Linked DNA regions of Homo sapiens. The protein of the gene in region 3 purifies or fractionates together with the protein of the main gene of each other region. This does not show direct contact. Each region holds a gene or a part of one and is shown on either strand. Other genes may lie near its edges.

Region 1 (4,217 bases), on a different chromosome or scaffold from region 3:
AGGCTGGTCTTGGATTCCTGACCTGGTGATCCACCCGCATCGGCCTCCCAAAGTGCTGGGATTGCATTTTTTTTTTTTTTTTTGAGACAGAGTCTCACTTGTTGCCCAGGCTGGAGTGCAGTGCAATCTCAGCTCACTGCAACCCTTGCCTCCCAGGTTCAAGCGATTCTCCTGTCTCAGCCTCCTGAGTAGCTGGGACTACAGGCATGTACCACCACACCCGGCTAATTTTTGTATTTTTAGTAGAGACAGGGTTTCGCCATGTTGGCCTGGCTGGTCTCGAACTCCTGACCTCATGTGATCCACCCACCTTGGCCTCCCAAAGTCATTTTCGTATTTTTATTAGAAACGAGGTTTCACCATTTTGGCCAGGCTGGTCTTGAACTCCTAGCCTCAAGTGATCCGCCCGCCTCGCCTCCCAAAGTGCTAGAATCACAGGTGTGAGCCATGCACCTGACCCAGAAATTTATTTTAAACAGATAATATATACATATGGCAAATAGAAAGTTAAAAGAGAACAAAGAACCAAAGTTCACAATGAAAAGTAAGCCTGCATGCCTACCCTACCTTTTCTTCAGGTATTCAATGCACAAGCATACGATGCATAGATAGCTCTATTATTTTTCCAATTTTACACATGAAGAAGCAGAAGCACTGAAAGGTTATAGAACTTAGACTGTGCTAAGATTTATCAGTCAGGAGTTTTGTTTCATTTGTGTATATCAGGGCTTCACAACCTTTACGCTATTCGGCATTTTTTGCAGGGTTTTTTTTGGGGGGGTAGTGGCAGGGCTGGGGGTGGAAAGGGTGTCCTATGCACCGCAGAATGTTTAGCAGCATTCCAGGCCTCTACTCACTAGATGCCAGTATCGCCTCTCCACTTCCCCAGTTATGACAACCAAAAATGTCTTCAGAGATTGCCAAATGTCGTGGTGGTGGAGGGATGTCAGGGCAAAATCCCTGATAAATGGAGAGAATGTGGTATATCCACAAAAACTCCCTCCAAAACCACTGGTGTGTATGACTATACATCAGACCACCCCTTTCTTTTTTCTGTGTTTTACACAAACAGTAGCACGAATACACCCCGCTGCGGGTCTACTTTTCTTTTCTTACACCACTTTTTGGTGATCATTCCACTTCATTGCTTACAGGCAGAAAGGAACTTCTCTTAAACAGAACTGACCGGGAGAAGTGGTGAGCTGCCCGTCCTAGGGGTAAGCCAGCGAGCAGACAGGGGCTTCCAGGGCGGCGGGGCGGGGTTCCCGGGGCGAGCCTCCGGGAAACTTCCCGACCAGCCTCTGCTCACCTCGCGGTCCCGAGGCGCAGTGGAGGGGATGGGGCGGGGCGGGGCGGGGCCGCGTATCGGGCCCGCCCCCGTACGTCACGTCGCCGCGGCCCCGCCCCCGCGCGGGCACCTCCCCCTTCCCCGGCTGGGGCGGCTGGAGAGCCGGGAGTCGCTGGGTGCGTGGGGCTGCCTCGCCGCGTCTCGCCACGGTAGGTGGCCCTGGGGCGGCAGGGGGTGGCCTCGGGTTGCAACCGGGGGCGCGGGCTGGGGGCCGTGCGGGTCGGCCTCGGGCGCCTGGCAGCCCTCCGTCCTGGCGGCTGCCTCCGGGCCCGGCGCGACTGCTCGGGCTCCGGGGCTGGGAGCTGGGATCTGGGAGGCAGGCAGGCGGCGCGGGCGCGCGGTTCTGGGATCCGCACCCGCTCGGCGTCCCGAGCGCTTTCCGCGGGGTGCGGCATCCACCGGGCCCCCGTTACCACGCTTCCCGCTTCGGACCCAGCGCCTGGGAGACGCTCAGCGTCTGTTGGCGGGGGGACTGGGGGGGAGGGCGGCGCGTCCCCGCCTCCGGAGTCCCCAACCTCGCCCAGGCGCGCGGGGACCCCCAGGCGGGCGCCAGGGCGCGTGGAAGTTAACTTGCAGCAGCCGTGGAGTTGCGAGGAGCGTCAGAAGTGGAGGCGTTGGGGGCGGAAATCGTCGGCTGGGGAGGTGGGCGCTGGGAGCACTGGGTTGGGGAGCCCTAGTGAACTTGGAGGTCACTGGTGAGGAGTGGAGAGGAATTTGACCCGAGGATCCCACCCCAACCCCCAACCTCCCTCCGTAAACTCCGCTTCTCGGTGTGAGCTGGATGGGAGGTGCCCGGAAAGCCGGGACTGGGACTGGTAGCAGGGGACTGGGAGCATGGGCTCAGAGGCTGAGCACGCCTGACCTGGCAGAGTCGTTGTTAGATGGGACAGAGGTCGAGGTCTGGCATTCCCACTCAAAGGCCCGTTCCCTAGGGAAGGAACCATCCACCTCAGCAGAGTCATTAGAAAGAACCGTGCCTAACCTCTTGCCCCCTTCCCCTTTTACAGATGGGGAGACTGAGGCTTGGAGAGGTCACCTGCCCGTGACCCTAGGATTCACAGCTAGGATGTGGCAGAGCTGAAACTCACTCACAGGCCTCCTGACTTAATGTCCTTGGGGATGTTGAGGAGGCGGGCTGTTGAACTCCTACTTATCCTACAGAAGCCCCCTCAAGCAGCACCTCCTCCGGGAAGCCTTCCCTGGCATTCTCCTGGTATTGTTGGGTGCTTCCTGTTTTGAACCCCACAGAGTTAGCCAGCCCTTTTTCTCACTTCCCAACAGACATTCCCTTGCATGTCTGTCTGCCAGACTGGGCTGTGGGTGGACACCTCTCCCTAGCCTCCATGTGATAACCCTTTCATCTCAGCAGGGTGGTCTGCTGGCGAGGGTAGGCTTCTGGATTTGAACAGATCTGTGACACACCGGATTTAGTAGTGATGTGGCCCGGGCGACGCATTTTCCTTCCGATCTAGTCTCAGTTTCCATAACTGTAAAGCTGGGTTTATTTCATTGTCCTAAAGGAACTGTTGGGTCATTTCTGAATCCCCCCACCCCACTGAACCCCAATTGTACTGTTGTTTACTTAATATACATCTTTGTATCACCTGATTTTTAAAAATCTCATGCAAACTTTTTTTATAACAGCTTTGTTGAGATACAGTTCACATGCCGTACAATTCACCCTTTTAAAGTATATGTTTCCGTAATTTTTAGGATGTTCAGAGTTGCATAGTCATCACCACTGTCTAATTTTAGAACATTTTTATCATGCCCAAAAGAAAGGCTGTTTCATGGTCACTCCCCAATCCTTTCTTCCCCTATCCCTTGGCAACCACTTACTGACTCTCAAATTCTCTATGAATTTGCCTGTGCTGGACATTTCATATAAATGCAGTCATATACTATGTGGCCTTTGGTATCTGATGCTTTTCACTTCAGAGAATGTTTCTAAGGTTCAGCCCCTTGCAGCCTGTATCAGTACTTCATTCCTTTTTTTTTTTTTAAGTACTTCGTTCCTTTTTATGGCTGCATAATATTCTATTATGTGGATATACCACATTCTATCCATTTGTCAGCTGATGGATGTTTGGGTTGTTTCTAACTTTTGACTATTATGAATAATACTGCTATGAACATTCATGTACAGGTCTTTGGACATACATTTTCAGTTCTCTCAGGTATATTTCTAGGAGTGGAATGATTGGGTCGTAAGGTAACTTTAGGTTTCACCTTTAAATATTTTTTTAATTTATTTTATTATTTATTTATTTTGTAGAGATAGGGGTCCCACTATGTTGCCCAGGCTGGTCTTGAACTCCTGGTCTCAAGCGATCCTCCTACCTCAGGCTCCCAAAGTGCTGGGATTATAGGTGTGAGCCACTGCACCCAGGTTTAACCTGTTGAGGACCTGCCAGACTATTTTTCCAGAACAGCTGTACCATTTTATATTCCTACCACCAGTGTATGAGGGTTCCAATAATCTTAAATACATTTAGTGTTCTCTGAAGCAGTCATAACCCTTGAAATCACTGGCTTTGATGTGTTAGTTGTAAACTATTTTCAGGCCGGGCACGGAGGCTCACACCTGTAATCCCAGCACTTTGGGAGCTAAGGTGGGCAGGTCACCTGAGGTCAGGAGTTCGAGACCAGCCTATCCAATATGGTGAAACCCCGTCTCTACTAAAAATACAAAAATTAGCCAGGTGTGGTGGTGCGTGCCTGTAACCCCAGCTACTTGGGAGGCTGAGGCAGGGGAATCGCTTGAACCCAGGAGGCAGAGGTTGCAGTAAGCCAAGATCAATCACACCACTGCACTCCGGTCTAAGTGACAGAGCAAGACTCTGTGAAAATACCGAAGCAAGGAGAGGCA
Region 2 (3,500 bases), on a different chromosome or scaffold from region 3:
CCACCAAGGGCAGCGGTGAGGGTGGAGAGGGAAGTGGCTCGGATGGCCCACCCTTCCTGGGGCTGGCTGCTCAGCCAGGCTGGGACTCTGAGAGGGGCCCAGGAAGGCATCTCAGGGAAGGAGCAGGAATCTCTCATGCAGGAGGTGGCGGAGGGTGTGCACTACGTGTCTGAACGCACGTGCACCTTTCCTATCATACAGGCTGAGCAGAGCAGGTCAGGCCCTCACCACGCCCAGCACAGAGAAGAAGATGACAATGGCCAGGCAGGCGTAGGCACTGTAGGCGCTGGCGTTGATGTCCGGGTGCCGCTTCTGGTAGAGCTTCAGCATGCAGAGTCCGGCGATCATGTACATGAACGATGTGTCTAGGATGAGGGACACGGAAGGGAGCTGCAGAAATGGCCACCAAGCCCCAGCAGAGAACTCCTGGCCCCAACAATCCCAGAGGAAGAGAGAGCCCTGGTGCCCCACCACGGCCATGGTGTGAGCTGGTGGCAGGGTGGCACTTGAACTTCAGTTCCTTAGTTGTACCTGCCACACCACACTGCCACCCCACTGGCTGTCACCCAGAGTCTGACATCTCCTGAAAACAGGGACAACTTGGTCTGTGTCTTAGTCTGTGAGCACCCTGAGATCAGGGACTCCCTTTTATTTTTTTGGAGACGGAGTCTCACTCTGTCGCCCAGGCTGGCGTGCAATGGTGGGATCTCGGCTCACTGCAACCTCCGCTTCCTGGGCTCAAGCAATTCTCCTGCCTCAGCCCCCTGAGTAGCTGAGATTACAGGCATGCACCACCACACCCAGCTAATCTTTGCATTTTTAGTAGAGATGGGGTTTCACCATGTTGGCCCGGCTGATCTCAAACTCCCCACCTTGGGCGATCCCCCCGCCTCAGCCTCCCAAAGTGCTAGGATTACAGGCATGAGCCACAGTGCCCAGCCAGGGCCCCCTTCTTTTTTTTTTTTTTGAGACGGAGTCTCGCTCTGTTGCCCAGGCTAGAGCGCAGGGCGTGATCTTGGCTCATTGCAAACTCTGCCTCCCGGATTCATGCCATTCTCCTGCCTCAGCCTCCCGAGCAGCTGGGACTACAGGCGCCTGCCACTGTGCCCGGCTAATTTTTTGTATTTTTAGTAGAGACGGGGTTTCACCATGTTAGCCAGGATGGTCTGGAGCTCCTGACCTCGTGATCCATCTGCCTCGGCCTCCCAAAGTGCTGGGATTACAGGCGTGAGCCACTGCACCCGGCCAGGGACCCCTTCTTAATTATACTGTTTTCTTCACTGCGGCACATGCCTTTACATAGGAATAGCTTGACAGATGAATGAAGCAGCATCTAGGTGCCCATGTTCCATAGGCTAGGATGTGTGCACACCCAGGCACGCCAGCCTTGGAGTTTCCTACAGGGGTGTCTTAGCGATCCCTGTGGGTGACTTGGGGATAGTGAAGGACTCAGGCAGGTCCCTGCTGTAGGTTGAGCCAGAAAAGAAGGACGCCCCACTCACCAAACTGGAAATTGGTATAGTTGGGGCACACATGATAGCAAGCACTGAGCAGCCCCTCCATCATCAGGGCTGTGCCCATGGCGTAGAAAAGCCCAAAGTGTTTGGGGATCCCACATTCCTGTTGGGGAGAGAGAGAAGGGAAGGGAGGGAGGAAGTGAGGCAGGAAGGGAAGAAGGGACCCAAAAGAGGGACCCTAAGAGGAGTGGAAGAGGAAAAGGGGTGGGGTATGTGTCGAGTGTGGGTGTGCAGGGGTGGGCTGGCCTGGGCAGGCTGGCAAGGGAGGGCAGGGCAGGGTGGGGCAGGCTGGGCTGGATAGGGTGGGCCAGACAGAACTGGGGAGGGGAGAGCTGGGGAAGGCAGGGCCAGGCCTGCCCAAAAGGGTGTCCTGGAGCCAAGGCTTGAGGTCTGTGCTGGAGCTGAGGCTGCGGCAGGCAGGCAGGTGCTCCCTTACCAGGGCACAGAGGTCATTGCGCAGCAGGGCCCGGTTGTGGTTGATCTCCCGTTGCAGGATGATGAGCAGGAAAAGCAGCCCCAGCAGGATGTACCCCAGGTTGCTGAGGATGTTGTTGAAGGCGCTAGAAGGGGCAACACAAGGCAGACTGCTTGGGACTCACACCCAGGCCTCTTCCCTAGCCCACGTGGGCATTGCAAAGCCCCAGGCCCTGCCCCATTTCACCCTTGGCCTGGACAAGGGGCCTCCCAGCATGACCCCCACCTGAGATTGCCCAGTGGGTGGGCGCAGAGGAAGTTGTAGTAGCAGATGTCCTGATTCCCTGTGACATTCACCACCTGTAGCAGGAGCAGGGACAGGGAGTGGGTCTGTCGTCACGCCCAACTCAGCCCACGCCCCGCCATCCGGGCCCCTTTGGCAAAAAACAGCAAGTGCCACCACAGCTAGCAGGTGGGAATACACAGCACCGCAGGCACGTGTTCCTTCTGAGAACATGGATGCCATGCAGCACAGTCGCTGTCCCCTCTCATTAGGCGTGGCTGAAAACCCTGAGGCATGACCGTGATGGAAGTTCTTGCCCCACGGGACAGAGAAAAGGGAAGGGAAACTGATGCTTACAAAGCCCCAGGACTTTGGTTTCATAATCCGCACAAGAAACCAGGGAGGGGCTATCTTTAGTGCGGGCTGCTCCCATTTTGCAGATGAAGAAACTGACACTCAGGGTTGGGGGGGTTATGTGATTTGCCCTGGGTCACTCGGCTGGGAAGGCAGAGCTGGGATCTGAACCCAGGTCCTGTGATGGAACACCAGGGCCCCAGGCTGGGAGGCTCTGCACTTTGGGGCGGTGTCCTAGGCTGTCGGAAAGGTGAACCTGCCCTGCCCTCTCACCGTCTGGTAGGTGATCACCAGCTGCACCACAGGAAGGGCATAGAAGACAGCAATGGTGGCAATGTTCCTGCGGAGCAGGAGGGCGGCAGTGAGGTGGGTGGCACCCAAGGCTGCCACACACCCACCAACAGCAGAGCCCCAGACACTCAGCCCACTCACCAGAAGTAGATCTGGTACTTTTTCCGCAGAACACGCTTGTCCTTCCGTGCCAGGTCAGCCACATAGAGGTATTGCTGGGGAGAAGCTGGAATCAGCCCCACTTACTGCTACTTGGGAGAAGCCCCCTCCCCCAGGTTAGAGGTGGACAAGAGGGGCCTCCCTCACACAGGGCCGAATTCAGGGGGGCAGGGTTCAAGGACATCCCACTGCTGCGGCCGCTTAGACCAAGAGGGTTTGGCCAATCAGGCCGGAAGGGGTTGGAGGTCAGGTTAGTTTCCCCGGCATCTGCCCTGCCCCAGCTGAGCCCCTTCCTTCTGCTTCCCTAAATGCCACGTCAGTGGGAACATGCTGGGGCGGGAACGCAGAATGTCCCTTTCTCAGGAAACGCCTGACCAGGCCAGGCCCACGGGTCAGACCTTGGTGCGAATGACATTCTTGTCGGAATCGATGTCGGTCAATGTGTCGTAGTCATCCTCCTCCACAGAGCTCATGGAGTCCAC
Region 3 (2,736 bases):
GGGAGTTCGGCTTAGGGAAGTTGAGTCACGCAGCTGACAGGGTGAGGGTGTGAGCCCAGACAGCACACAAATGGGGGAGGGCCACAGGGTCAGGAGGCAGGTTACAGGTGACATTAGGGCCTTCCTCTGGCAGTTTGTGAAGACCCACTGGTCTGAGTCTGCTAGTGTGGGATGTGCAGGCCAAAGGTGCAGGCAGTTGACAGAGTAAAGTGCTGTTCCTGAGCTTAGCTCCTGCCTTTGGGCAAACACAGTCTCTGCCACTCTGCAGAGTAGTGCCTCAGCCTGGCAGAGCTCATTAGCAGCTAATGCATGACAGGAATTTCATGGCACCGTCCACTGGTCCCGTGGTGTTAACCGCCTGTGTGGCATGCTTCTCTGCGTGGTTTTCCAGCTTTCGTGGGCACAGGGAGAGCAGAGGCCTGGGAAGGACGGGCACCAGCCATACCCCCTCCCAATGTACAGAGCCCAGCCCAACCTCAGGGAGTCCGGCACCGCAGAAACACGTAACACAAAAGCTTTTACTTGGAAACTGGCAAATACTGGACTAGAATACTGACATGCTCACGCTCTGGCGGGAGCTCGGATGCAGAAGCTATTGCACAAAGCCCCTCTGATTGCCTTGCTCCTCTTTGGCATGTATCAGCAGAGCCCCAAGGGCCAATTGCCCACAGGTGGGGACTGTTCTCCATCAAGGTATGGGGACCCCTACTTCCTTGTTTTGTTAAAAAGTGCAGGTAGGCGAAGAAGCCCAGGCAGTTGACCCAGTCTTTGAAACAGCTGACTCCCCAGCACCCAGTGTCCACTGGCAGATGAGAGGTTTGCACCTATACCAGCCCTTGTTTCCTTGGTAGGGCTCAAGTTGTCAGTGTCCAGGTACCTGGGCTGGGCCAGAGCTGGGGCCAGGGGAGCCTGGTCTTGAGGGGTAAGGGCTGCAGGGCCAGGCTGATGGCCTGTGTCATGGCATTGGCCATCTCCTCTCCAGCTTCTCCTCAGCCATCGCCCGTCCGTCATGGTGGTGTCGGCTGCACCTGGACCTTCCTGCCTCTCCGCTCAGGGCAGCAGCAGTGAGTGCAGCAGCAGCTGCAGGCTATCAGCAGCAACAGCAGAACAGTAGCTGGAGGGCCGGGAGAGAGCACGGGACTCAGGTTGGGGGAGAGAAAGGATGCCCACCCTCCTCCCAGAGAAACCCACTGCCTGCCAGGGTCTTTCCCCCACAGGTTTGGTGGAGGTCAGAAAGATCCGAGAGGCTGGTGAGAGGTGCGGACGGTCCCCATGCCAGCCGCCAGGGCCAACCTCCTCCATGTTGTGTCTTCTCTTTCACTGCCCAAGCCTGGCTCCCGTCATCCCCGCGTTTGGGATCCCGGGGTACTGCTGGGCCCAGTCCCCAGCACCGCCCATCACCCAAGCAGCATATCAGAGGATGAGGGAAGTCCCTTGGCTTCCCCCAAGGGACAACTGGTTTTCCTCCTTGATCCGGCAGACACCCGCCACCTCTGCCAGCCCTCTGGCTGGCACCATGGTGTGGTCTCTCCCAGATGCCAGGGAGAGCCATGGGGTGCTGAGTGCCCCAACTAACCTGTGAAAAGGATGATGACTGAGAAGGCCACGATCTCCACGGGCTCAGCCTGGGGCAGTCTCTGCAGCTTGAGCAGCAGCCTCTCGCCCACGGCGCGCATCTCCTGCACGAAGTCGGTGGCAGCCATGCCGCGCTGGCTTCCTGTTGGGGCTCCTGCCGGGCTCTGCTGGGGCAGAGAGAACACCTGGAGCCTCCACGGCTGGCCCCACACTCGTCGCAGCACCGAGATTCCACCCTCGCACCCATCCGCAGCCCGCAGAACAAGTTTGTCAGGTCTCACACATTGCACCCCTGGTGACTTCCACCTAGTGGTGGCCCTCAGTCCCCACCCAGCTGACACAGCTCAGGGTGGAGGAAGCCGGTGAGGACAGTGAGACCAAGGGCTTGCTTCGGGGGCTGCCGGCCAAGGCGGCGGCTGGTGGTGGTTTCTGGCTTCGCTGTTCCATTCCCTTGTCTTGAGGTACCACTACTGGGTTTTGCCTGGGTGCTTGGGACTGGCACAGCTCCCTCGGGGTGGGGAGACTGGGATAGGATGCCAAGCTGGTACTCTTGCCTTCCATCAATGTGGGGACAGAAGGAGCAGGTTCTCCCGAGAGCAGGTTCATGGGGCTTCTGGCCAGGGTCAGTCAGAGGTGAAAACTGCCCCCCTGTCCCCCAGGCCCCCCAACCTCTCCCACCAGCCCAGTTTCTACACTCATGCCTGTTCTGCCAGAGGGGGAGGCCGCACCGTGTCCCTCCAGGTTTTGCCAGGGTTTCTGTCCTGTCTGTTGGGAGGGGGTCAGGAGGCCCAGGTTGCTCAAGCCAGCCCCTCCCCTGCTGGCGTCATCTGTTTCTCTAGCCTGACCAGGAAAGTCCTCTCCACTCCCACCCCTGCCCCAGGAGAGCCTCTTCCTGTCTCAGGGTGCCCAAGAGGCCCAAGGTGCCACTCCAGAAGGCTTTCCCCTTCTGCCTCTCCTGTGGGCATGAGGGAGCTGGTGCCTCTTTAGAGAGGAGCCAGAGACAACCTTGTCCCAACCCAGCCTGATCCAGTTCACCAAGGCAGTTGCTCTAATCCAGGGGTGGTGGTGGGGACAGGTGGCCAGGGGCTGGTGCCAGACCTTTGGCTGTAATTATCGTTGCCTTGTCCCAGGTCTCAGCCGGTTCTCGCTGAGATGGCTACG
Region 4 (3,500 bases), on a different chromosome or scaffold from region 3:
TATTCTTTCTGGGTCTTAGATTCTAGGAGATAGGCTTCTGGAAACACAATTTGTGGATCTACATGAAGCATGGATCCTGAAATTATTTTAGAGCCAGTGTGGCAGGGCTGTGGGACTATCCTTGGCTTCATATGATCGACTGGTTCCAGAACCACTGAAATTGTGTGACACATCTATGATCAGTGTCAAGACTAGGGAGGGCAGAAGAGAATTGCCAAGTGAAGTGGCACCTGGATCTGATGTACTATCTGCAGTAGCCCTTCCTCCCTCCCCAGCTCTCTTATTAAGGGTCAAAGACTTCTCCCCATCCCTCTGAGAAGTTTCTTCAGCCTTCTGCTCCATTTTGGACTTTTTGGTAGCCACTGGAGCCAGGGGCTTCACAGTACTCAAACTGCTGGATTGAGATTCTGGGATCTGAGCTACAACTGTTTGGGGGGAAGCCCCTGGCAGCCTACCTGTGTATTTCCGGTGGCTCCCGTTTGATCTTAGCACTTGATTCCATGACTTCCTTTGCAACTCGGCCACTGTAAGTAGTGTAATAAAAACAAGCAGCAAGAAATGAGACTGTGTTGTAGGACAGCTCCTCTCCAAGATCTTAGGTGCTTTCCCTGAATCAGGAAATGGCATCTGTGGCCCACCCTTTCCCTGATGTTTTGGTCATGGAGAAAGGCTTGCTTGGTGGGGTAGACTTCTAAACTGTCATGACAGCCTATCTGAGAGAACTCTCTCCATCTCTAGAGTCTTTAGGATCTTCCATTCTCATTTAGGAGTAATTCCTCATTTTCCAGCATGTTCCAATTACATCACAAAAAAACACATAAGAACAACCTTTAGACAGTGAGACATGAATCACTGTTATAGTTCTTATTTTGCTATTGTAAGGGAAAGAGAAGATACATATTTATTTTTCATTTTCTTGGAGACAGGGTCTTGCTCTGTCTCCTGGGCTGGAGTGCAGTGGTGCAATCATGGCTCACTGCAGCCTCGACCTCCTGAGCTTAAGCAATTCTCCCACCTCAGCCTCCCAAGTAGCTGGGACTACAGGTGTGTGCCACCACACCCAGATAATTTTTTTTGTATTTTTAGTAGAGATGGGGTTTCATCATGTTGCCCAGGCTGATTTCAAACTCCTGGCCTCAAGTGATCCACCTGCCTCAGCCTCCCAGAGTGCTGGGATTATAGGCATGAGCCACTATGGCCGGCCAATATACATTTAAAACCCTACAGACAAATTGCTGTAGGGAAGGAAGGAAATAGTAAAAGGGTCATAAGATGGGAGAATTAGATGGAGACCTCAGACTTTTCTGAGTCCTCCCTGGTTTCTCTGTTCTAAAGGATAAGGACCACTGAGTTCTCCAGAGAAGGGTCTGAAAATAGATCCATAATGGTTACTTACTGTCACTATTTACCTGTATCGGAACCGGCTCCCTTTAAAGAATAAATTGCTGCTGGACACTGTGCGGACTTGGCTTGACTTCTCCAGCCTGTAGCAAGGCAAAGTCCAGTGTGATAGACAGCCTGAACTGCCTCACACAGGTTAAGGCAGCACATCCCCAGCTTCTTCCAAAGGCTACTTGAAACTTCAGGAAAAAAGCCCTTCATAGTCCACATTTGTCTCTGACTCTCATTTAGGATCTGGGGGCTGTGCTCACAGCCAGCTGCTCTCCTGCCTCAGTGCCCAGGACTGTCAACATGGAAACCCATTTTAGTGTCAGGAGAGTGAAGGCTCCCCCAAAATGCTTCATAGGTTTTACCAGGGGGACTGAGAGAATACATGCTCGGGTGGATGGTCTTGGGGAATAATAGAATGCCCATCTAATCTCAGCCACGTCACTTATTAGCAGTGTGACCTCGGGCAAATTTCCTTCTCTCTTAGCCTCACCCTTTTTATAAAATGATAGAGCTGGGACTACTGGACCTTAGGGGTCTCCTTTCCAGTCCCAGTATTTGATTTTGTGTCTATGTCTGGGTAATTGTGGGTGGAGAAGAGGGTGGGGGCTGTCTTTCCTGTTCCATCTCCCTTTTGGAGGGTCCTAAAATACATGACCACAGTAAAGACAGAAATCCTGCGATGAAGAAACTAGCTTAACTTTAATAAAAGTCCGTCATGTATTTGAATTTGGAGCCTTTCTCCCTCCCCCAGGATATCTATTTTATATCTCGTTTGAAGCTGCAGACAGCCGATGTGGAGCTCTGTAATACTTTCTCCTGGGTGACTTCACTGAGCCCATTAGCTCTCTCAGCTTGGGCACAGCAGCTCAGAGAGAAGCCTCCTAAGATGGGATCCACCTGTAACATGCCCAGGTGCCTATGGTACTGATCCAACCAGTAACCTATGTGAGTCTGAAACCTGTGCTATGAGCAGTGAGTAGGAGCTGTTTCCACAATCCATGAACAGTTCTTGGGAGACACCATCCCTGCCCGTCTCAGGGCTCCAGGACATCCGAGCTGCTTACTGGAGCCTGGGCATGTTCTTGCATCTGACTGGGCTCCTGCCATGGCACTAGGCCAAAGGCAGGACTAGGGATCTGTATGTGAGAGACACTGAGGGCAAGGCCAAAGCGCTGCTGCCAGAGACTTGACATACCTGGGGATCTCACCCAGGCTTTTACCGTTTGATGAGAACATTAAGGAGGCAATGGAAAACTGAAAAATGACCTCCATTTCCAGTGTGGGTGCAGGCAGGGCTGGGTGGGTAGGGAGATCTACTCGTGGGAAGACTCAGAAACTGAGTGAGGTCACAGGTTCAGAAGCAACACTTCTGTTTCCGTGACACAGATGGGAAAACCAAGCCCTTAAGAAATGCTGCTGAAGGCATGAAAAGACAAGAGGCAAGGAGATTGCTTCTGTTTGCTTCTTCTCTACCCTTTGGTAGAGAGAAAGGGAAAGCTTCCACATATGCCATTCCCAGGGCAGGGATAGTTCAGTGTGGAGCAGGCCCCTGTCGGCTAGTGCCTTCCTCTCTCTGCTGCGGAGACCCGTGGGACCCCAGTTCTTGGGCTGCTCCTCAGTCCCACAGGCAGGAGCTTGCATCTCAAGTTGCTTCTCTCTAGGTTCAGGTAACTGGCCAAACCTGGATTACATCCTCACAGGCAAAGGGAGGGTGGTAGCAAAAGAAAATAAATGTTTTCTTGACTTTCTATGGACAGTAGGGACTGAACAGGAGGGAAGTGTGACCATGCCAAAGTCTCCCGAGTATATTCAGGAGAAGAAAGGCTGCCGATTCAGTGAATCCTTGGTTCTGGTATAAACACATAATGGGAATTAAGTAATTCAGAATGCCTGTCTAAGAAACAGCTTCTGGGGCTGTGGCCCTGGCAACTGGGAGGACCCAGTTCTGCCAGCCAGCATCCCATAGCAGCCAGCAGGCAGCAGAATCTTCCCTGGAGAGAAGTATGGTGCCACTCATCCCAGAGCAGTTCTCATCTCTCCAGGATCCTTCAGGTTACTGGAACTGGGACCTGGCCAATCAGGGGCATTTGGTGAGAGCAGGGCTCACC

The links. Proteins that work in one complex are often made in the same cells at the same time.
Region 1: the proteins of SMIM5 (region 3) and TPST2 purify together in Homo sapiens (affinity purification with mass spectrometry; one large-scale study listed by BioGRID and IntAct). This does not show direct contact.
Region 2: the proteins of SMIM5 (region 3) and SIDT2 purify together in Homo sapiens (affinity purification with mass spectrometry; one large-scale study listed by BioGRID and IntAct). This does not show direct contact.
Region 4: the proteins of SMIM5 (region 3) and FRMD5 purify together in Homo sapiens (affinity purification with mass spectrometry; one large-scale study listed by BioGRID and IntAct). This does not show direct contact.

What each region holds. Positions count from the first base shown.
Region 1 is NC_000022.11:26,587,333-26,591,549, reverse strand, and holds the start of TPST2 (protein-tyrosine sulfotransferase 2), read left to right. Parts: upstream 1-1,417; 5' UTR 1,418-1,497; intron 1,498-4,217. UniProt on the Homo sapiens protein: Catalyzes the O-sulfation of tyrosine residues within acidic motifs of polypeptides, using 3'-phosphoadenylyl sulfate (PAPS) as cosubstrate.
Region 2 is NC_000011.10:117,188,743-117,192,242, reverse strand, and holds part of SIDT2 (SID1 transmembrane family member 2 precursor), read right to left. Parts: coding exon 3,417-3,500; intron 3,075-3,416; coding exon 3,001-3,074; intron 2,909-3,000; coding exon 2,842-2,908; intron 2,292-2,841; coding exon 2,218-2,291; intron 2,078-2,217; coding exon 1,954-2,077; intron 1,621-1,953; coding exon 1,503-1,620; intron 366-1,502; coding exon 229-365; intron 1-228.
Region 3 is NC_000017.11:75,639,169-75,641,904, reverse strand, and holds the end of SMIM5 (small integral membrane protein 5), read right to left. Parts: exon of another isoform or gene 1,740-2,736; coding exon of another isoform or gene 1,704-1,739; coding exon 1,577-1,703; intron 1,115-1,576; coding exon 1,008-1,114; 3' UTR 501-1,007; downstream 1-500.
Region 4 is NC_000015.10:43,884,272-43,887,771, forward strand, and holds part of FRMD5 (FERM domain-containing protein 5), read right to left. Parts: intron 1,485-3,500; coding exon 1,410-1,484; exon of another isoform or gene 1,397-1,409; intron 525-1,396; coding exon 456-524; intron 1-455. UniProt on the Homo sapiens protein: May be involved in regulation of cell migration. May regulate cell-matrix interactions via its interaction with ITGB5 and modifying ITGB5 cytoplasmic tail interactions such as with FERMT2 and TLN1.